Homo sapiens: one gene and its partners. The protein of the gene in region 1 purifies or fractionates together with the protein of each later gene. This does not show direct contact. Each region holds a gene or a part of one and is shown in the gene's direction. Other genes may lie near its edges.

The links. The genes of interacting proteins can lie anywhere in the genome.
Region 2: the proteins of SPSB4 (region 1) and PCDHGC3 purify together in Homo sapiens (co-immunoprecipitation; 2 studies listed by BioGRID and IntAct, with this or other methods). This does not show direct contact.
Region 3: the proteins of SPSB4 (region 1) and LRIG2 purify together in Homo sapiens (co-immunoprecipitation; 2 studies listed by BioGRID and IntAct, with this or other methods). This does not show direct contact.

The regions. Positions count from the first base shown.
Region 1 is NC_000003.12:141,046,448-141,054,393, forward strand, and holds the start of SPSB4 (SPRY domain-containing SOCS box protein 4), read left to right. Parts: upstream 1-4,899; 5' UTR 4,900-5,545; intron 5,546-7,946. UniProt on the Homo sapiens protein: Substrate recognition component of a SCF-like ECS (Elongin BC-CUL2/5-SOCS-box protein) E3 ubiquitin-protein ligase complex which mediates the ubiquitination and subsequent proteasomal degradation of target proteins.
Region 2 is NC_000005.10:141,471,138-141,478,965, forward strand, and holds the start of PCDHGC3 (protocadherin gamma-C3 isoform 1 precursor), read left to right. Parts: upstream 1-4,828; 5' UTR 4,829-4,979; coding exon 4,980-7,409; coding exon of another isoform or gene 7,410-7,571; exon of another isoform or gene 7,572-7,658; intron 7,659-7,828. UniProt on the Homo sapiens protein: Potential calcium-dependent cell-adhesion protein. May be involved in the establishment and maintenance of specific neuronal connections in the brain.
Region 3 is NC_000001.11:113,076,198-113,083,197, forward strand, and holds part of LRIG2 (leucine-rich repeats and immunoglobulin-like domains protein 2 isoform 1 precursor), read left to right. Parts: intron 1-7,000.

The DNA.
Region 1 (7,946 bases):
ATGAGATACTGTTACATGCATCAACATGGATGAATCTTGTTAAGTCCAATGGCAATTCCTAGAAAATGATATATAGTATAGTACCTTTTAATAAAGTTCAAAAAGCAAGTAAAGCTAAATAAATTCATGTTACATGTATTTTTAAATCCAAGGAAATGATAAACCATAAAAATCAGGATAGTGGCCAGGCGCAGTGGCTCACGCCTGTAATCCCAGCACTTTGGGAGGCTGAGATGGGTGGATCACGAGGTCAGGAGTTCAAGACCAGCCTGGCCAAAATGGTGAAACTCCATCTCTACTAAAAACACAAAAAATTAGCCAGGCATGGTGGCAGGAGCCTGTAATTCCAGCTACTCGGGAGACTGAGGCAGAGAATTGCTTGAACCTGGGAGGTGGAGGTTGCAGTGAGCTGAGATGGTGCCACTGCACTCCAGCCTGGGTGACAGAGCAAGACTCCATCTAAAAAAAAAATCAGGATAGTGTTTTTGTGTGAAGGAGAGGCAAAAAGATGGGCTAGGAAAGGAGCACCCGGGAAGATGTAGGTGTTGGAAATGTTCTAGGTCTTGGGTTCAATAGTGGGTTCATGTGTGTTCATCATGTTATGAATAAATACATGAATTAATAAGTCCCATACTTGGGCTAATGTTGACAATGTGTCATGATCAAGGATTATGATTAATTCAATTCTGATCATTCAATACCTAAATGGAAGACAGAAATAGAGAGGGAGAGAGAGAAGCCAATGGAGCTGGCCTTTCTTCCTTTTTTCCTCCCTCCCTTCCTCCCTGCCTGCCTGTCTTTCTTTTCTTTTCCTTTACCTTTAATTATTCCACAAACATCTACTGTTTGTCGACTGTATACCATGCCCCAGGCTGAGAACTAGGAACACTGGGATGAATCAGACACAGTCCTGCCCTACAGAGTCACCATGTGATGCAAGAGTCTGACAATTCCCCAAATGTTTTCAAGGTGCTATGACAGATGTAAAGCAACAAGGTGTGGTAGGGCTTACAGAAGGGGCCCTTAATCCAGCCTGGGCTATTTGGGAAGACTGTGGAGCTTTCTGCTTTGAGAAATTAGCAAGAAGAAAATGTGGTTGGGGGTGTAACAGCTATAAAAATGAAAAAGACAGCCTTGCCCTTGAAGTGCTCATATCTTGGGGTGAGGGACAAGAAAGGAGGTCACAACAGTGGGACTTGGGGTTGTGAGAGAGGCAAGCACAGGCTTGAGATGCACATAGGAGGGCACCGTGCTGTGCCTGCAGTGTTGGGAAGGCTTCCTGGAGGAGATGACATGTATACAAGCAGAGAGACGAAGTATGAATTAGAGTTACCTGGAAAGTCTGTACCAGGAAGAAAGGTAAGCACCTACAATGGCCTGTGGCAGGGAGAAAGAGCATGGAGGAGCTCAGGGGGCCCCAGTGTGGCCTGGCCCAGAGCGCAAATGAGAGGAGGTGAAACTAGATGAGTAGGCAGGGAGCCAGATTCCATGAAAAAGCATGAAAATTATGCTGTGGACCATGGGGTACCTCTGAAGGGAGTGGCAAGGGTGATTTTTCCTTCATGAAGAGAGCCCAGCAGTAGAGGTGAGGGGGCCGCTATAACTGCTAGGGAAAGAGATGGTGATGCTTGGGCTGTAAAGAGGAACAGAATTTGAGAGCTGAGCACCTGATGGACAATGCTGCATGGCAGGCTGGGCTCAAACAGGGTTGCTCCTGAGGGGTGGGCAGAGGACATTCAAACCTCACACAACACAGTTCTGTCTTGCCACAGACCTCCTTGGAGCAAGCTGCAAGCTCCAAAATTTCTCAGAACTGAAAGTTTTTCCTCCAACTTCTGTAAAACCATGGTTAATACTTTTACAAGACAGAGAAGGAGTCCGAGATTTCAATAGCTAAAAACTGGGAAGTAGACCGAATACCATTCCTTGTGGGAGCAAAGGCAGGAGGAGTGAGGTTCAGAGCTTTGCTTTATCCAAGGGGTTCTGGACCCCTGACTGCAGCAGCTCCCTACTGGACCTTCTGCCCCAGGCATTACTTTGCCTTAGTCCAAGAATCCCACGAATGCTACAGATCTTGGTCTACTCCTGAGAAGTAGAAGGAAAAAGATTTATTGTGCACCGACTACACGACAAGCTACAACCCACAACTGTACTCTAGGGACATTCTTCTGTTCCTGTTTAGAAATGAGAAAGCTAGGACCCAAAGGCTTGGAATTGAGATTTAAGCCCAGAGCTGTCTGACTATGCCCATGCAATACTGTACATTCTTTAGAGCAATACTGTGGCTAGTTTTTCACGGTTGCATTTTTAGACTCACTCTTGGACAGTTAAGAACATCTTGCATTAGTTACCTACTGCTGAATAACAAATTACTCCAACATTTAGCTGATTAAAACAACAAACATTTATTATCTTACAGTTTCCATGCATCAGAAATCTAAGCACAGGTAGTTGGTTTCGGTGATTCACGATCTCTCATGAGGTTGCAGTCAAGGCATCACACAGGGCTGTATTGTCCTATGAAGGGCTCAGCTCGGCGGGGCAGAGATCTGCTCCCAAGTTCACTCATGTGGTTATCGGTAGGTCTCAGTCACTCACCATATGGGCCTCTCTCCACAGTGCCACTGCAGGATATAGCAGCTGGCTTCTCCAGAGAGGTGATCCCAAAAGAGAGCAAGAGTGTATGCTCAAAACAGAAGCCACAGTCTTCTTATAACCTAATATTGGAAGGAACATCCCATTACCTCTGCTGTATTCTGTTAGTGAGAAGCAAGTCAGTAAGTCTAGCCCACACTTTAAGGGAAAGGGTTTACACAAGGGAGTATATACCAGGAGTCAGGGATCACTGGGGGCCATTTAGAAGCTGCTGATCTCAATCTAAAGAATTTTAGTAGCCAGGCTATCCTGGCTTCTCCCCAAATGGCAAGTTGTTTCCCTTGTTATCCAGAGGCTGGAGGATTTGGGGGTCTACAGGGACACAAGGGGGCCCTGTTTTGGCCCACTCCTTTGTGCCTGGGGCATAATCTCATTGGGAAAGGCCAGTGTGGTGAACCTAACTGGAGCCCCCAAGGGAGGGGGGGAGTTGTTTTCTCAAATTGTGGCCACTGCTCCCTCCCTCCCTTATCCTTGAAGCTACTGTGATGCTTCCCAGCACCGAGTGGAAGCAACGGGCATCCTCCACACACACACCCAGCCTGTCAGCCAGATGGGTAGAGAAACCATCAGCATGAACGTCTGCTTTAAACTTTCCTTTGCTTCTGAGCTTCTTTCCACAAATTTTCTTTTCTTGCTCCCCAACCACATCCATAACCCCCACAGTAGCTCACAGTAGAGGTGCTCCAGGAGCTTGTCAATAGGAGGTAGGAAGGAAAGACACCAAGTGTGAATGTAGGTCAGCACTGCCACTTAGGGCAGTTCAAATCACATTCACTGTCCTCAGCATCTATCCTATGCTGGTGCAGGGCATCCAGAGATGTGTGAGGTACCTATACTTGCCCTCCAGGGGGGGCTCACAGTTTTAGGAGGGGCAGACATGCAAACAGACAGTGATGAAACGTTAGAATAAGTACAATAAATACGTGTCAATACACACTTTTGTCACCTCATCATGGTTATCTTGGTTCATAAAGCATCATCTTATGCTTAGACTATTACAGTAGCTGCCAACCTGGTTTCCTCCATCCATCCATCCAGTTGGCTGCTAAGAGGTCTTTCTGGAATGCAAATCCGACAAGGTCACTACCCTGGTTAAAGGCCTCCCAAAGTGATGGGGAAGGTCAAGCTCTTGATACAGTCTCCACCCAAGACCCTAGACACCGTCCATCCCTCCAGTTCCGTCATACCCCCTCTGCTCATAGCACAGGCTCTGTGCTGTGATAGGTAGCTCTCCAGGTGACCATGTTGTACCCCTGCCTCCAGGAGCTAATTCATGTAGACACATTTACTAGGAAACATTCCCAGTTGCCCTTTCCAGTCTGACAAATTCGCCCCAGAACCTCTCTCAAAACGTTTCCTTCATAGAGTTGGATTGTCTTTACTTGTTTTCCATGTCCTTGATGAAATGCGCACTCTGCATCTAGACTCTGTCTGCATCTAGACTCTGTCTGCATCTAGACTCTGCCTGGTACCTGGCACAGAGAGGGATTGGGTTAGCAAATGACTGCGTAATGGACCTAAAGTCAATTCTGGGAGCACAGACGAGGGCCACCAAACCAAGAACTTTCAATTTCCCCAAGGAAGCGCAGATACCAGAAGCACCCTCGAGGCTTCTGTTTTGGCCACGCCCTTTACCCCATCGCTCAGTTCAGGCTCCCAATGAGGCGGCCCACCATCAGCGCTGGTAGAGCAAAGAGACCGACTTCCTGCGCCTCGGGTGGGCGGGGAACGCTCCTTGAGCAGGTGCGGTATGAAATTGGACTTTAAGAGATGAGTTGGAGCCTGATCTCAAAAATAAAGTGTGGACGTGTGTGTCTGAGGAAGGGGGATAATAAACCACCCTTTTTTCCTCCTGGCTGCTATTTCCCACGTGCGTTGAGTAAAGGCACCAAAGCTGCCTAGTGACTGGGTGTCTCCTCCCCGTCAGGGGCACCCACCCTGGCGCTCCAGGAGCGCTTGAATGAATCCGGGAGGACCCGCGCGCAGGAATGAATGCGAGAGCTAGGGAGTGAGCGGGCGAGTGGGCGGGTGAGTGAATGGCGACCGCGCCGCCGCCTTGGCACAGGGGCGCGGGCGCGGGCTCCACTTCCCTCTCCCGCCAGCTGGTGGCCTCGAGAAGGTGGCGGCGCCGGCAGCGGCCCGAGCTGGGACGGCCGGGGCGCGGGATGGTGGGGGAAGGGGCGTTCCCGGCGACCGCGCCTTCCGCGGCTATTGGATTAGTGGCCTTCAGGGATGAGCTCAGCCAGATCGGCTTTCAGCTGCAGCCTCCGGGCCGGCCGGGAAGGCGGGGAGCGGGCGGCGGCGGCGGAGGAGGGGGAGGCGGCGGCGGCTGCAGCATCCAGAGCTGGCCGTGGCGGCCGGCGCGCCCCGCGCACAAAAGCACCCAGCCCCAGGGGAGGGCGATGAACACACCACATCCCGGGCCCGGGCCCCAGCTGCTGCTACCGCTGCGTGCGCTCAGGGCGCTGGGGAAGACGCCCGGCGCGCCGGGGGCCAGCGGCCGAGGCGCGGCCCGTGCGCCCTGAGCGCGGGACTCGTCGCCCTCCGGGTCAGGCGCCAAGCTTCCAAGCGGCTAGAGCGCGGGCCTTGGAGCGCCCCCAGGATCGCTTCAGTAAGGCGCTTCCCCACTCCAGGCCCGACCCCCGGCGCCTGAGCGCCAACTTCGCCAAGAACGCTCCTAACTCCAGGCCATCCTGCAGCGCAGAGGGGGCGCTGCTGCCGGGCATCAGCCGTGAGGACGCGCCCCTGGCCGTGCGGAGAGAGCCGGCATTTGCGGGTCACTCGGGCGCCCCTGAGTGGGCGGCGGCGGCAGCAGACCCCTCTCCAGGGAGTCCAGGACCTGCCAGCGCTGGGGATTCTTCCCGAACAGGCGCTTGCCCTCTCTTTTATGGTAAGTACTCTCCAGCTCCTGGTGAGGGGCGCGCGGGGGCCGGGAGCCGAGATCCGGCTGCACGGACTTTGTGCGGGCCAGCACTCGACACAGCTGGCGCTCCTGACGTCCCAGTCCCTGAGAATTCCTCTCTGCAGGTTGTGGCAGTTCGAGATGGTTGATTTGCGCGCAGCCCTGGGGCGTTTGGGGCCCGGCCTTTGGTATCATGGGTTCTAAGCCCTTTGCTTCTCTGCGTAGCGGACAACGCACAAAAAACTGCCATCCGATTCACCCGCTTTGGTTTGGATCCAGGATCCGTCACTCACTGGCTGAGTGACCTTGGACAGGGCGCCAAACCTGTTTCCTCATCCGTAGGATGGGAATGATAATTGTGCACATTTTATAGGGGTATTGGAAAGATCTATGGGATGGTGTTCGTAGGTAGACATGTGCTGGGCACACAGGAAACACTCAATCATATGTTAGCTAGTATTATTATTAGCTTTGCGAGCCCAAGCTTGTTATCCAACTTTCCGAAGCTGCAGCAGTTCCGTCGTCCGTGTAATGGGGACAATAATTCCTGGGGGTCTGTTCGTCCGGGGTATTCGGAGAGGTGGAAGTAAAGCACGGGTCACGCAATAGGCACCGGTGGCTGTTGTTACCGTTTATTCCTGACTCTGGGGCAGTGAGGCTGGTCGCCTGGCCCGAGAGCGACTCAGGGACCAGTCCTGGCCTTGCTTGAATACAAACTTGTCTATGCTCGGGAAGGGAGGGGGTTGGGAGCTCAGGAAACCCTAGGCGCAGGGCTCTGGGAAGGAGGGAGGGGGTCAGAGACTTGAGCGCGGCAAATGTGTCCGCCCTGGTCGCTCTGTACGCGCCAGGGGCTCCAAGCCAGAAGGGGACGCCGAGCCCCCGACCTCTGACTGGCGGGAGAACCGGGGGAGTGGCTGCTCCCGCCGGCCCATGGCCAAGCGCAGACGGCTGCCGGCAGGAAGGAGAGGAGGGCACTTTTCTGTACCGCTGTCGCGAGAAGGTGGAGAGTTCTCAGTTCTGGAGTCAGGCTTGGGTTCGAATCTGTCTCCACCACCAGCTCGCGGTGTGACCTTGGGCAAGTTCTCTAACCTCCCCCCGCTTGGTTTCCTCTTCTGCGCCCCACTCTCCTCCTTGGGGGGTTGGGGGATGAAGATAGGAGTTCCTTTCTCTCAGACTCTGAGCCCTCTATCCTCCCACCCCCTTTCTGGCCCCCTGCCCCCCACCCGCGCAATTTGATGAGCTTAAGTCTGGAAGACGTAAAATGTGTAAAAGCATGATATAAACATCCTTTACCCAAGGGCATATTCCTCTGAGACACATACCCTCTAATTTATTCCATTTTTAAAAATGGTAATGAAAAGAATTTAAGCCACCTTTGGCAAATCACAAACAAAATTCAACTTACTGGACCTTCTACCCAAATATCTCTCCAGTTTGTATTTCTCGTTTATTTTAAAGATATATTTAATGATATAAAAATAAAATCTGCAAGGAAAAGAAATCACCAGAAACAGTCAAAAGATATATGACAAACTGTCACATATGACATATACCACTCCTATCACAACAGGCTCATCTCTTTAAATATGTAAGAGATTCCTGAGGTCAACAAACAAAAGATCAAATGGGCAAAGACACGATTCATACATGCGAAATAAAATAGAAATGATACCAAAACATATGACAAGATACCTTACCTCAATACGAAAAATGCAAGTTAAAATTACAAGATTTTTTTTTAATGTATCAAATTAGCAAGTAGTCATAACCATTTATCAGAAGCATCTTTTAAAAATGTAGATCACATTTCTCCCTAGCTCAGGACCTCCTTAAGGCTGCCACAGAGTAAAATCTAGATGATCCCAGGGGTCCTCAGGTCTGGTACTGCCCTTCTCCACCTCTTCCTCACCATTTTCCTCTCCCCCACTACCCACCCTCCTAGCCTTCTTCCTTTTACTCCAACACTCCAAAGGCTCATTCACTTGCTGTTCCCCTGCCTAGAATACTTTTCCTCCTAGTTTTTCATACAACTGAAACTTCCTCATCATTTACGTAGAACTGTCCTTGGAAGGGCTTCATTTCTATCCCAGAAAGTGGCCAAGCCACAGTGGCCAGTGCAGAATTCCTTGCCCTTTTGGGGAAAGACCTAGTACAACTCACCATACAGGAGTTACTTAATTTCCCCTGAGCTGCCCGACCTGTTGTCACACATCCATGCTCTAGAAAGGTTTTTTCTCTGTTGATACAGGAGTGAAGGGTCTTGGGCATGAAAATCAGGGGAGTGGCAGGCCGTAGATGGAGGTCACCAGAAGTCTCTGCCTATATATGTACTATATAAGTACATAGTATGTACTCTTGATTTATGTGAACATGACCATCTGTGGTAAGA
Region 2 (7,828 bases), on another chromosome or scaffold:
CTCCTGGGTTCAAGTGATTCTCCTGGCTCAGCCTCCCTAGTAGCTGGAATTACAGGCACCCACCCCCATGCCTGGCAATTTTTTTGTATTTTTAGTAGAGATGGGGTTTCACCATGTTGGCAAGGCTGGTCTCAAACTCCTGACCTCAAGTGATCCACCCAACTCGGCCTCCCAAAGTGCTGGGATTACAGGTATGATCCACTGCGCCCGGCCTCCAAGCCCCCTATTTTTATTTTGCACTGACCCTACAAGTTACGTAGCTAGGCTTAGTTATGTTTTTAGCAAGGAAAGTGTATAATCTCATGTACCTTTTGAAAGATTACTCAGGTCTCTGCATGTGAAATGGAATTTAGGGAATGCAAGAGAGGGAGTAAAAATAACAGCGAGGAAGCTATGATAGCATTTAAGGTTGCTTTGACTCAGGGGTAGCAGTAGATAGGGTAAGTAATTGATAGTTTCAAAATATATTTTGGGAGTAGTAAGCATTGGTATGGATTAGTAATATACTGGATGTGGGGATGCAGAAAAAAATATTAAAAATTACTTCTGAAATTCTGGCTGGAATAGAAGTGCCACTTACCAGGTAAGGAAGGTTGGAGACATAACATATTTGAGGGTGTGGTCAAAAGATGAGTTTGACATTATGCTATGTCATATAAAAGACATATAAAAGACTACCTATTTTATAATTCCTTTTTAATAAAATATTCAGAAAAAGCAAAACTGTGGTTGCCTGAGGCTGAAGCTAGGAAGATTGACTACAGACAAGCATGAGGGAAATTTTGGGGGTGATGAGAGTTTTCTAAAACTGGATTGTGGGGTTGGTTGCATTACTGTATAAATTTATTAAAAATCCCTGCATCGTATAGGGGCACTATATTGTATGTAGAAAGCTGTGAAAAGATTTTAAAAATGATTGACATGTCTGTGGTTATATCAATGAGTACTATTATTATTCCCATTTTATACATAAAGAAAATAAAAGAGAAGTTAAAAATAAAAGTTTCATGGTTACATAGCTACTAGGTGTAATATCCAGTATTGGAATTTGAATCTTTTTGACACTAAGACCTTACTCTCGATCATATAATACATTCACTTTCTATTTTAAAGTTATATTATAGCCGGGCACAGTGGCTCACACCTGTAATCCCAGCACTTTGGGAAGCCGAGGCAGGCAGATCACGAGGTTGGGAGATCGAGACCATCCTGGCTAACACGGTGAAACCCCGTCTCCACTAAAAATAGAAAAAATTAGCCAGGCGTGGTGGCACGCACCTGTATCCCAGCTACTAGGGAGGCTGAGGCAGGAGAATCGCTTGAACCCAGAAGGCAGAGCTTGCAGTGAGACGAGATCGTGCCACTGCACTCCAGCCTGGGTGACAGAGTGAGACACCATCTCAAGAAAAAAAAAATTATATTATAAATGCTGCATCTCATTGGTCAGAAGCTCTCTTGAAATTATAAAACAAAGAAGAAAAAAGATAAAGACTGGGAAATTGTGTTGAATCAGTATATAAATCCTGTATACTGGTCCTTCCATTTCCCCTAGAAATAAGTGATACAGGCCAGGCGCTGTGGCTCACACCTGTAATCCCAGCACTTTGGGAGGCGGAGGCTGGCAGATCACCTGAGGTTGGGAGTTCAAGATCAGCCTGACCAACATGGAGAAACCCCCGTCTCTACTAAAAATAGAAAATTAGCTGGGCATGGTGGCACATGCCTGTATTCCCAGCTACTCGGGAGGCTGAGGCAGGAGAATTGCTTGAACCCAAGAGGAGGAGGTTGTGGTGAGCCAAGATTATGCCATTGCACTCCAGCCTGGGGAACAAGAGTGAAACTCAAAAAAAAAAAAAAAAAGAAAGAAAAAGAAAAAGAAAGAAGGAAGGAAGGAAGGAAAGAAAGAAAGAAGTGATACAACAAGTTACAGCATCTTTGTTTATTATCCACTGTGAGTTGTATTACCACACTTTACTTGGCTCTTTGGCAAACTATATTATCTCTTCAGATCACTAGGGCTAGGAAGGCCCACTGGTAACTTGAAGGAGTAAATGTATCTTCTAAAAAATGCTTACTTCCAGGGAGATTGGATCCACACAAGTGAATACATATATAGTCCTTAGTGTATGCTATGATTATTTTACTATGTCAGTAGCATAAAGATTGCTATATTAATAAGCATTAAGTGCCTGCTGTGCTAGACAGTGAGGATGCAAGTGGCCACCAAAATAGCATGGTCCCTGCCCTCCTGGAGCTTCTTTTTTTCTTCTTCAGTGGGGGAAGCAGATACTTTGCTTATGCAAAAATAATTATAAAATTTAAAGTTGTGCCAAGTTCAATGGAAAAAATATAAGGTGTTCTGAGAGAGCATAACAAAGGATCCTGGTTTTAACTGGGGCCTAATGGAAGACCTCTATTAGGAAATAACATTTAAACTAAGACCAGACAGACCTGTAGAAATTAGCAAAGCAAAGGGAGGGAGGAAAAAGCAGCTTTCCTGGCAAAGGAACAATTTGTGTGAAGGCCCTGAGACAGGGAAGGGCTGGGGTTCTGACCACCCTCCAAGTGGTGCAATGGAATATAGTGAGAGAGGGAGAAGACATGAGAACTTGGATACTATGCAAAGGATTTGGTATTTTAATTCAAGAGCAGTATGATGCTACTGAGGAGCAGCTGGACAATTGTGTGATCCAATTAAAATTTTAGGAAGATGAACCTCGCTATTGTGGAGAATGCATACACAAGGGTTCTGTTGGTTCATGAAGAGGTCTTAAGAAAACTATGAGCTGGGTGCAGTAGCTCAGGCCTGTAGTCCCATCTACTTAGAAGTCTGAGGCGGGAGGATCCCTTGAGCCCAAGGAGCTGGAAGTTACAGTGAGCTATGATTATTCCACTGTACTCCAGCCTGGATGACAGAGCGAGATCCTGCCTCAGAAACAAAAACCAAAAAACAAACAACAACAAAAACAACAACAACGAAAATCTCAGAAAACTACAGGCCTTATTATCAAGAAAATGACAGGCCTTATTATTGAGAAAACTACTTACATTTTTAAAAGCTGATTTTCAAAAACCAGATTGTGAATTAAGTGATGCTGAATAGGGGAAAAAAAGACTGATAAACCAGTGTATCTCTGAATAACCCACTAGATCAGTGCTTGTCAAACTTTAATGTGTTTTCAAATCACCCTGATGTTTTGTTAAAATGTAAGTCATGTCTCAGTAGGTCTAGAGGAGGGCATTTCTGCATTTCTAACAAGCTCCCCGGTGATGCCTAGACCATTGGTCCTCACACTTTGAGTAGCAAGTGATTGGGCTATACTCTTTATTCTAAATTCTAAATGTATTCTATCTTCTAATGCCTATCAGCCCTCTTGCTGGTCTGGCTAATTATCAAACTTGAGCATTTAAAACTGGGGGTTTTCAGAGATTAATTGAAGTGTTAAAGACATGGAAATATAGGTCACATATGGCTTTTCATCTCTTCCGGAAATATCCTATATATCCTTACTTCTTTTCTACCTACCTAACCTATGTGCCTACCCCTTCACTTATGTTCAAGGTTCTATTATACTTCAAAAGGACTCTATGCAATCAAAGTGATGTCCAAGACAAATATACAGAAATAGTATGAGGCTCTAACACTTTACATCTAATGGAGTGGTTTGCATCATTAATTGAGGCTTACTCTGTGCCAGGCACTTTACCTGCCTTCTTCATTTAATAGGATAGGAGCAGGAACTCTTAGAGGTTCATTTCTTGTTCAAGGATATACATCTCATCTCTGGCTTATATCACAGTGGACTCTTTTATTCACTATCCTAATCATTATAATTTTGTTTGGTGACAACAATTCTAAATGCAGAAAAGTTAAGGCTCTTTATTCTGTGACTAAAGGCTTTGTATTTTCTAAAGATTTGTGGAGCTTTGCTGCCATTATTTCAATAATTTTATAAAGATCCTAGGTGGTAAATAGGCCTGGCTTTTTTTCTTTTTGAAATCTTCTCCGTCTTCTTCTTCATTAGCAGTGCAACTTCTTGTGGCATATGGTACCCAAGATCTTGGGAAAAGGATTGATCAAGTAAAGGGAAACGATAGAGAGAGTGTGCTCTACAACTGAGATCATGCTCCTTGTGAAAGACAGGGTAGGGAAATTTCTTATTGCTCCCTGGTTCTTAAGAAATGAGAGCTAACAATGACATCCAGTTTTAAAAGAAATAAAATCTGAATTGTACTTTTAAATTTTATAAGCCAGAGTTAAACCAATAGATTGTAACTCCTGCTAATTTGATAGTAGCTCCAGATAATGAGGAAGTGACAGGGAATGCTAATTTCATTTGGTAAGAGATAAAACTGAAATTATTAATGTCTCCACGGAAATGCTAAATGCCTCCTTACAAGTAGGGTCCGGCTAATTGTCTGTCTTCCAACAAGCCAGATTTGTTGGTGTTTTTCCAGACAATGTTGTGTAGTTTTCGGTTTGGTTCGATCCCCTTTCTTGTGATCAAAGAAAGTGATTCAAATGTTTAATGAGTCTTGATTTGGATTGGAGACTTGCAGAACGGCTAGCCTCACAGCCCCAAGGCTGGCTTTCCCTAAGGTAGGTTTCCTATGCACCGATACTGGCAAGGCGCTTTGGCTGGAAACTCTGGAAGGAAGCCAAAGGAAAGTGAAGTTCCTGGCGCTAGCGCGTGTCCTGCTCAGAGAGCCCGGCGCTAGCTCATTCTTCGTGCAGTTATTGGCTGGGACTCTGTGTGCCGCTGTCGGCCAATGAAGACGCTGGAGATCGGGCCCCTGCCCGTCCCCTTTCTGCGCCCCGGGATGAGGCAGAGACTGAACAGCCGGCGAGCAAATCAACGGCATCCAGAAAGCCATGTCGGACTCGGCGCCCAGCGCCCAAGCGCTAACCCGCTGAAAGTTTCTCAGCGAAATCTCAGGGACGATCTGGACCCCGCTGAGAGGAACTGCTTTTGAGTGAGATGGTCCCAGAGGCCTGGAGGAGCGGACTGGTAAGCACCGGGAGGGTAGTGGGAGTTTTGCTTCTGCTTGGTGCCTTGAACAAGGCTTCCACGGTCATTCACTATGAGATCCCGGAGGAAAGAGAGAAGGGTTTCGCTGTGGGCAACGTGGTCGCGAACCTTGGTTTGGATCTCGGTAGCCTCTCAGCCCGCAGGTTCCGGGTGGTGTCTGGAGCTAGCCGAAGATTCTTTGAGGTGAACCGGGAGACCGGAGAGATGTTTGTGAACGACCGTCTGGATCGAGAGGAGCTGTGTGGGACACTGCCCTCTTGCACTGTAACTCTGGAGTTGGTAGTGGAGAACCCGCTGGAGCTGTTCAGCGTGGAAGTGGTGATCCAGGACATCAACGACAACAATCCTGCTTTCCCTACCCAGGAAATGAAATTGGAGATTAGCGAGGCCGTGGCTCCGGGGACGCGCTTTCCGCTCGAGAGCGCGCACGATCCCGATGTGGGAAGCAACTCTTTACAAACCTATGAGCTGAGCCGAAATGAATACTTTGCGCTTCGCGTGCAGACGCGGGAGGACAGCACCAAGTACGCGGAGCTGGTGTTGGAGCGCGCCCTGGACCGAGAACGGGAGCCTAGTCTCCAGTTAGTGCTGACGGCGTTGGACGGAGGGACCCCAGCTCTCTCCGCCAGCCTGCCTATTCACATCAAGGTGCTGGACGCGAATGACAATGCGCCTGTCTTCAACCAGTCCTTGTACCGGGCGCGCGTCCTGGAGGATGCACCCTCCGGCACGCGCGTGGTACAAGTCCTTGCAACGGATCTGGATGAAGGCCCCAACGGTGAAATTATTTACTCCTTCGGCAGCCACAACCGCGCCGGCGTGCGGCAACTATTCGCCTTAGACCTTGTAACCGGGATGCTGACAATCAAGGGTCGGCTGGACTTCGAGGACACCAAACTCCATGAGATTTACATCCAGGCCAAAGACAAGGGCGCCAATCCCGAAGGAGCACATTGCAAAGTGTTGGTGGAGGTTGTGGATGTGAATGACAACGCCCCGGAGATCACAGTCACCTCCGTGTACAGCCCAGTACCCGAGGATGCCCCTCTGGGGACTGTCATCGCTTTGCTCAGTGTGACTGACCTGGATGCTGGCGAGAACGGGCTGGTGACCTGCGAAGTTCCACCGGGTCTCCCTTTCAGCCTTACTTCTTCCCTCAAGAATTACTTCACTTTGAAAACCAGTGCAGACCTGGATCGGGAGACTGTGCCAGAATACAACCTCAGCATCACCGCCCGAGACGCCGGAACCCCTTCCCTCTCAGCCCTTACAATAGTGCGTGTTCAAGTGTCCGACATCAATGACAACCCTCCACAATCTTCTCAATCTTCCTACGACGTTTACATTGAAGAAAACAACCTCCCCGGGGCTCCAATACTAAACCTAAGTGTCTGGGACCCCGACGCCCCGCAGAATGCTCGGCTTTCTTTCTTTCTCTTGGAGCAAGGAGCTGAAACCGGGCTAGTGGGTCGCTATTTCACAATAAATCGTGACAATGGCATAGTGTCATCCTTAGTGCCCCTAGACTATGAGGATCGGCGGGAATTTGAATTAACAGCTCATATCAGCGATGGGGGCACCCCGGTCCTAGCCACCAACATCAGCGTGAACATATTTGTCACTGATCGCAATGACAATGCCCCCCAGGTCCTATATCCTCGGCCAGGTGGGAGCTCGGTGGAGATGCTGCCTCGAGGTACCTCAGCTGGCCACCTAGTGTCACGGGTGGTAGGCTGGGACGCGGATGCAGGGCACAATGCCTGGCTCTCCTACAGTCTCTTGGGATCCCCTAACCAGAGCCTTTTTGCCATAGGGCTGCACACTGGTCAAATCAGTACTGCCCGTCCAGTCCAAGACACAGATTCACCCAGGCAGACTCTCACGGTCTTGATCAAAGACAATGGGGAGCCTTCGCTCTCCACCACTGCTACCCTCACTGTGTCAGTAACCGAGGACTCTCCTGAAGCCCGAGCCGAGTTCCCCTCTGGCTCTGCCCCCCGGGAGCAGAAAAAAAATCTCACCTTTTATCTACTTCTTTCTCTAATCCTGGTTTCTGTGGGGTTTGTGGTCACAGTGTTCGGAGTAATCATATTCAAAGTTTACAAGTGGAAGCAGTCTAGAGACCTATACCGAGCCCCGGTGAGCTCACTGTACCGAACACCAGGGCCCTCCTTGCACGCGGACGCCGTGCGGGGAGGCCTGATGTCGCCGCACCTTTACCATCAGGTGTATCTCACCACGGACTCCCGCCGCAGCGACCCGCTGCTGAAGAAACCTGGTGCAGCCAGTCCACTGGCCAGCCGCCAGAACACGCTGCGGAGCTGTGATCCGGTGTTCTATAGGCAGGTGTTGGGTGCAGAGAGCGCCCCTCCCGGACAGGTAAGGTTTAGCAAGTCATGCTTGACCCTGTTAGTGCTTTTTTATTCCTACATCATATTGAGGAAGGAATGGAGCTGTTTTTTTAGTGATGAAGATGTTTTCCTGGTGATGCATTCACACTTTCAACTGGCCCTTCCTAGATCAAAGTTAGTGCCTTTGTGAGATGGTGGCCTGCCAGAGTGTGGTTTGTGGTCCCATTTCAGGGGGAAGATACTTGACTCATCTGTGGACCTAATTCACATCCTCAGCACTCTTTTGCTATCACAACTAACCAATCTTGCTAAGGGATGGTTAAGCTAAAACACAAGATCTCAGCGATCAGAGTTTAGCTTGGTATCATTTACATTAGGAATAAGCTGCTGGATACCTCTAACCAGTGGCAGCTTCTAGGAATACAAAAACTACCTCATTCCTCCACC
Region 3 (7,000 bases), on another chromosome or scaffold:
GTTTCACCATGTTGGCCAGGCTGGTCTTGAACTCCTGACCTCAGGTGATCTGCCCACCTTGGCCTCCCAAAGTGCTAGGATTACAGGCACGAGCCACTGCGCTTGGCCACAGCCGGGCCTACATTTAAGATTCTCCGTTGGTTGGTAAACATTTAGAAGTAATTTTATGTAAGATATATTTTTGTGTTAAGGTTTGATTTTTGTTTAATCAAGACCAATTGCCTAGAGCCAAGTGACATTCAGAATTTTTAATGTCCTATAATGAAATGACATTTTCAGTTGAAGTGAAATGACTTAGAGAACAATTCAGTTGTAGAAATGTAATTGGATGGAAGTCTTACATTGGTAGAACTCTTAGAATATTAAAAGATAGTACCGTACTATTTTAAATTGAGAAATGAAACATTCTTCAGCAGTTGCCTTTAGCTATAAAACCACCCAGTACATTTGGGTTTCTTTATGTAATTTTGAATGTTGAAATACATGTAATGCTTTAAATATATTAGGGATTCAAATATATGCTCAAACTTGTGACCATCAAAATGATTATGGACAAAATTCATTAATACTGATTTTTGGAAACATACTCAGATACTGTCTTTATGCTTCTCTGTATGAGAAACTCTCTAGAATATTATTTGATCATTCAGAGCTTGACTGGGTTCTCTGTGGGTATAGAGCTCTGTTTCACATTATTCTGATTACACACACATACACAGCATTGAAAGACTAGGTTTATGACTCAACTTCTTATTTTGCAAAGTAACTTTGTTAGAACCCCTTTCCCCCAATGATGTGTTGTCTTGGTCATTTCATGATAGTACCAAAACATTAAGAAGTATGTATTTTTAGGGTTAAGGACGCTTCTATAGATTATATAGATTTAGCTTTATGAAATAAAAGTAACCTTTTCCTTACTGTTTTATTTCACTGTAGACTGTTAAATTTTTTTTCTTTTTTTTTTTGAGATGGAGTTTCTCACTTTCGCCCAGGCTGGAGTGAAGCAGCCTGATCTCGGCTCACTGCAACCTCTGTCGCCCGGGTTCAAGTGATTCTCCTGCCTCAGCTTCCCGAGTAGGGATTATAGGTGCCCTCCACCATGCCCAGCTAATTTTTGTATTTTTAGTAGAGAAGGGGTTTTGCCATGTTGGCCAGGCTGGTGTCGAACTCCTGACCTCAGGTGATCCGCCCACCTTGGCCTCCCAAAGTGCCAGGATTACAGGCATTAGCCACTGTGCCTGGCCAGCTGCTAAAAATTTTGTCTTGGATCAGTATTGGGAACCAGTGCTGTACTTGATTAATTTATTGAATTATATATATACTTAGTTACCTATAGTTTTTTAGTTCTTTCTATTTTCATTATAATTGTTTAAAATTTGTTTGCATTTGTTTCTTTATAATAGTTGTGAACAGATTCGTTTTTTAGCATAGAGGACATAAGCTTATGTTGAATAGCTCTAGGGAAGTCTTTCCATGTGTGACTTGAGCTTCAACCTCTGTAGCTATTTTAGTAACCCTGGCAAAATGTTTTCACTATTTATTTATTTATTTATTCTACTTTAAGTTCTAGGGTACATGTGCACAACTTGCAGGTTTGTTACATATGTATACATGTGCCATGTTGGTGTGCTGCACCCATTAACTCATCATTTACATTAGGTATATCTCCTAATGCTATCCCTCCCCCCTCCCCCCACCCCATGACAGGCTCCGATGTGTGATGTTCCCCTTCCTGTGTCCATGTGTTCTCATTGTTCATTTCCCACCTATGAGTGAGAACATGTGGTGTTTGGTTTTTTGTCCTTGCAATAGTTTGCTGAGAATGATGGTTTCCAGCTTCATCCATGTCCCTTCAAAGGATATGAACTCACCCTTTTTTATGGCTGCATAGTATTCCATGGTATATATGTGCCACATTTTCTTAATCCAGTCTATCATTGATGGACATTTGGGTTGGTTCAAAGTCTTTGCTATTGTGAATAGTGCCACAGTAAACATATGTGTGCATGTGTCTTTATGTTTTCACTATTAACATGTGGATTTAGTCTTTTTTTTTTTTCAGATGGAGTCTTGCTGTGTTGCCCAGGCTGGAGTGTAGTGGTGGGATCTTGGTTCACTGCAACCCCCGCCTCCTGGGTTTGAGCGATTCTCCTGCCTTAGTCTCCCAAGTAGCTGGGATTACCGGTGCCCACCACCACGCCAGGCTAATTTTTGTATTTTTAGTAGAGACGGGGTTTCACCATGTTGGCCAGGCTGGTCTTGAACTCCTGACCTCAGGTGATCCACCCACCTCGGCCTCCCATGGATTTAGTCTTGATCCCTTAAAAGAGTATGAGCTCACTAGCAGTGACTTGTGTGATGTCAAGCAAAAACTTCATAGCTTTACCTGTATTTCATATTTCCTTCCTAAAGGGGCAGATCATTTGCAGTTCCTTTCTACATTTTTTTTTTTTTTTTGAGACGGAATAGTTTCATTCTTGTTGCTTAGGCTGGAGTGCAATGGTCCAGTCTCAGCTCACTGCAACCTCCACTTCCCAGGTTCAAACGCTTCTCCTGCCTCAGCCTCCCGAGTAGCTGGGATTACAGGCATGCACCACCACGCCCAGCTAATTTTGTATTTTTAGTAGAGATGGGGTTTCTTCATGTTGGTCAGGCTGGTCTCAAACTCCCAACCTCAGGTGATCTGCCCACCTCGGCCTCCCAAAGTGTTGGGATTACAGTTGTGAGCCACCACAACCGGCCAGAGGAGGCAATATTTTTTGAGATAACTTTGTAACTTGCGGTTGGATAATCTAGCTGAAATGTGAAAGTAATCTACTTTAATAGCTTTAAACCACAAGTTGGTAAATTGAAAATGAGCCCTGTGACCTGGTGCGGTGGCTCACGCCTGTAATCCCAGCACTTTCGGAAGCTGAGGCCGGCTGATCACTGGAGCCTAGGAGTTCAAGATTAGGCTGGGCAACGTGGCAAAACCCACTGTCTGTCAAAAAAAGTGCAACAGTTAGCCAGGTATGCTGGTACACACCTCTAGTCCCAGTTACTTGGGGGGCTGAGGTAGGAGGATTGCTTGAGCCTGGGAGGCAGAGGTTGTAATGAGCCGAAATCATGCCGCTGTACTCCAGCCTGGGAGACAGAGCAAGATCCTATTTAAAAAAAAAAAAAAAAAGAAGAGAAAGAAAATGAGCCCCTTTAAAAAAGGTACAGATGGCCGGGCACAGTGCTCACACCTGTAATCCCAGCACTTTGGGAGGCAGAGGCGGGTACATCACGAGGTCAGGAGTTTGAGATCAGCCTGGCTAAGATGGTGAAACCCCATCTCTACTAAAAATACAAAAATTAGCCAGCCGTGGTGGCGGGCGCCTGTAATCCCAGTTACTCTGGAGGCTGAGGCAGGAGAATCGCTTGAGCCCGGGAGGCAGAGGTTGTAGTGAGCTGAGACCACTGCACTCTAGCAACAGAGCAAGACTCCATCTCAAAAAAAAAAAAGAAAAAAAGAAAAGAAAAAAGAAAGGTTATACCTTTGGAGGGAAATCAGGAGAAATCTTTTTTTTTTTTTTTTTTTGAGGCGGAGTCTTGCTCTGTTGCCCAGGCTAGAGTGGAGTGGCACAATCTCGGCTCACTGCCACCCGAGTTCAAGCGATTCTGCTTCAGCCTCCCAAGTAGCTGGGATTACAGGCGCCCACCACCATGCCTAGCTAATTTTTGTATTTTTAGTCAAGACGGGGCTTCACCATGTTGGCCAGACTGATCTCAAACTCCTTACCTCGTGATCCGCCTGCCTCAGTCTCCCAAAGTGCTGGGAGCCACTGCGCCTGGCCCGAATTTTTTTTTTTTTTTTTTTTGAGACGGAATCTTGCTCTGTCGCCAGGCTGGAGTGCAGTGGCACAATCTCGGCTCACTGCAACCTCCGCCTCCCAGGTTCAAGCGATTCTCCTGCCTCAGCCTCCCAAGTAGCTGGGACTACAGGCACGTACCACCTCACCCAGCTAATTTTTGTATTTTTAGTAGAGACGGGGTTTCACCATGTTGGCCAGGCTGGTCTCCAACTCCTGACCTCGTGATTGGCCCACTTTGGCCTTCCAAAGTGCTGGGATTACAGGCGTGAGCCACTGCCCCCAGCCTATCAGGAGAAATTTTAAAACAAGTTAAAGCAACCCATTCTAATTTGCTTCTGGTCTTTTTTATTTATTTATTTTTTTGGAGACGGAGTCTCGCTCTGTTGCCCAGGCTGGAGTGCAGTGGCGCAATCTCGGCTCACTGCAAGCTCCGCCTTCCAGGTTCACGCCATTCTCCTGCCTCAGCCTCTGGAGTAGCTGGGACTACAGGCACCTACCACCACGCCCGGCTAATTTTTTGTATTTTCAGTAGGACGTGGTTTCACCGTGTTAGCCAGGATGGTCTTGGTCTCCTGACCTCATGATCCACCCGTCTCGGCCTCCCAAAGTGCTGGGATTACAGGCGTGAGCCACTGTGCCCGGCCTGCTTCTGGTCTTTTAACTATCTTACTATATGGTTTCTTTTCAAGGTACCTCATTATCCATAGTAAATGTTGTGAATGAATCAGGGCATTATCTTAGCTAATTATTTCAAAATCATCTTTTTAAACAAAGAAAAATTCTAAATATGGGAACACTAAAAGTTTTTTTTTTTTTTTTTTTTTTTTGAGACGGAATTTTGCTCTTGTTGCCCAGGCTGGAGTGCAATGGCACAATGTTGGCTCACTGCAACCTGTGCTTCCTGGGTTCAAGGGATTCTCCTGCCTCAGCCTCCTGAGTAGCTGGGATTACAGGCATGCACCACACGCCTGGCTAATTTTTGTATTTTTACTAGAGACGAGGTTTCACCATGTTGGCCAGGCTGGCCTCAAACTCCTGACCTCGTGATCTGCCTACCTTGGCCTCCCAAAGTGCTGGGATTCCACGCATGAGCCACCGCGCCTGGCCCAAAAAGTTATTACTAACTCTGGTTCCCATCTGACTCTGCATCTGGGATGTTTCGTCTAATTGCCTCAAAATTCGGAAAAACGTATCCACAAGTAATCTTTCATTTTTTCCCTTATCTTTGTTTTTATAGAGCCTTGCAGCATCCATTAGATAGTTACTAAATATTAATGAGTAAGTAGTTGCATGGAGTGTCATGATGGCTGACAGCTGTAGATGGAGGTGTTTTTAGTGGTCTGAAACTGTATACTGGTCACCCATTTCTATTTTTTTTTTTTTAGTTTTTTGAGACAGAGTCCTGCTCTGTCGCCCAAGTAGCTGGGACTACAGGCACGCGCCACCATACCCAGCTAATTTTTGTATTTTTAGTAGAGACGGGGTTTCACCATATTGGCCAGGATAGTCTCGATCTCTTGACCTCGTGATTGGCTGGAATGCAGTGGGGTGATTTCAGCTCAGTGCAGCCTCTGTCTCCTGGGTTCAAGCAATTCTCCTGCCTCAGCCTCCCGAGTAGCTGGGATTACAGGCACCCGCCACGAGGCCTGACTGATTTTTGTATTTTTAGTAGAGATGGGGTTTTACCATGTTGGCCAGGCTGGTCTCAAACTCCTGACCTCAGGTGATCCGCCCACCTCAGCCTCCCTAAGTGCTGGATTACAGGCATGAGCCACTGTGCTCGGCCTCCAGCCACCCATTTCTAAAGTTGAGATACTTCAAAAGTATTATGGATGTCTCTCACATAATCTCATGTAATAGAAAGATTATCTTTTTTAGACAGTAGCAGAAACAGCAGTTTTAGTTTGCAAAAGAAACACTTTAACTGGATATTAGTGGCCAAGTAAAAAAATTAAGTAAATAAAAGACGTAGTAAATCCCTAAACCAAATTGGGCATGAGGCGTGGGAAAAGCTGCTATGTTTCCAGAATCCAATATACTTTGCCCCTGGCTTGCATGATACTGTTACAATGAACTGTTTCACTTGCAACAGTCATTTCAAAGCATATACGATGCTTTCACTGTATTAAGGATTTTAACATATTTTGTCTTCTTTATCCTGGTATATCTGGGGAAGTGGTAAACAGCAAATGTGAGCCTTTAAAATCTAGTGATATCTTCAAGACATTTTTGTTAGTTTATAAGATATCTGAACAAGAAAATCTGCAACAAGAGAGCCTAAAGAAATCTGATCTAATACAGATCTGATACAGATCACCTGGGCTTGGTTGTTACACAATTATACCCTGGTGTATTAGTCTCTTGCACTGCTATATACAATTAAATCAGACTGGGTAATTTATAAAGAAAAGAAGTTTAACTGGCTCACAGTTCTGTAGGCTGTACAGGAAGTATGGCACTGGCATCAGCTTGGCTTCTGGTGAGGCCTCAGGGAGCTTTTACTCGTGGCCAAAGGCAAAGCGGGAGCAGGCAATTCACATGGCAAAAGCAGGAGTGAGAGAGAGAGTTGTGTAGGGGAGGTGTCACGCTATTATTTATTTATTTAGAGACAGGGTCTCTCTTATTTATTTATTTATTTGAGACGAAGTCTCTCTCTGTTGCCCAGGCTGGAGTGCAGTGGTGAGATCTCAGCTCACTGCAACCTCCACCTCCCAGTTTCAAGCAATTCTCCTGCCTCAGCCTCCTGAATAGCTGGGATTACAGGTGCTTGCCACCATGCCTGACTAATGATTTTATATTTTTAGTAGAGATGGGGTTTTGCCATGTTGGCCAGACTGGTCTCAAACTCCTGACCTCAGGTGATCCACCCACCTTGGCTTCCCAAAGTGATGGGATTACAGGCATGAGCCACCACGCCCAGGCTGGAGTTCAGTGTTGCAATCATGGCTCAGTGCAGCCTCAACCTCCCTGGGCTTTGAGGATCCTCCCACCTCAGCCTTCCAAGTAGCTAGGACTACAGATGTGTGCCACCATGCCTGGCTAATTTTGTGTAGATTTTATAGAGACAGGGTCTCGCCATGTTGCCCAGGCTGGTCTTGAACTCTGAATCTCAAGCAGTCTGCCTGCTTCAGCCTTCTAATTGCTGGCATTATAGATATGAGGCA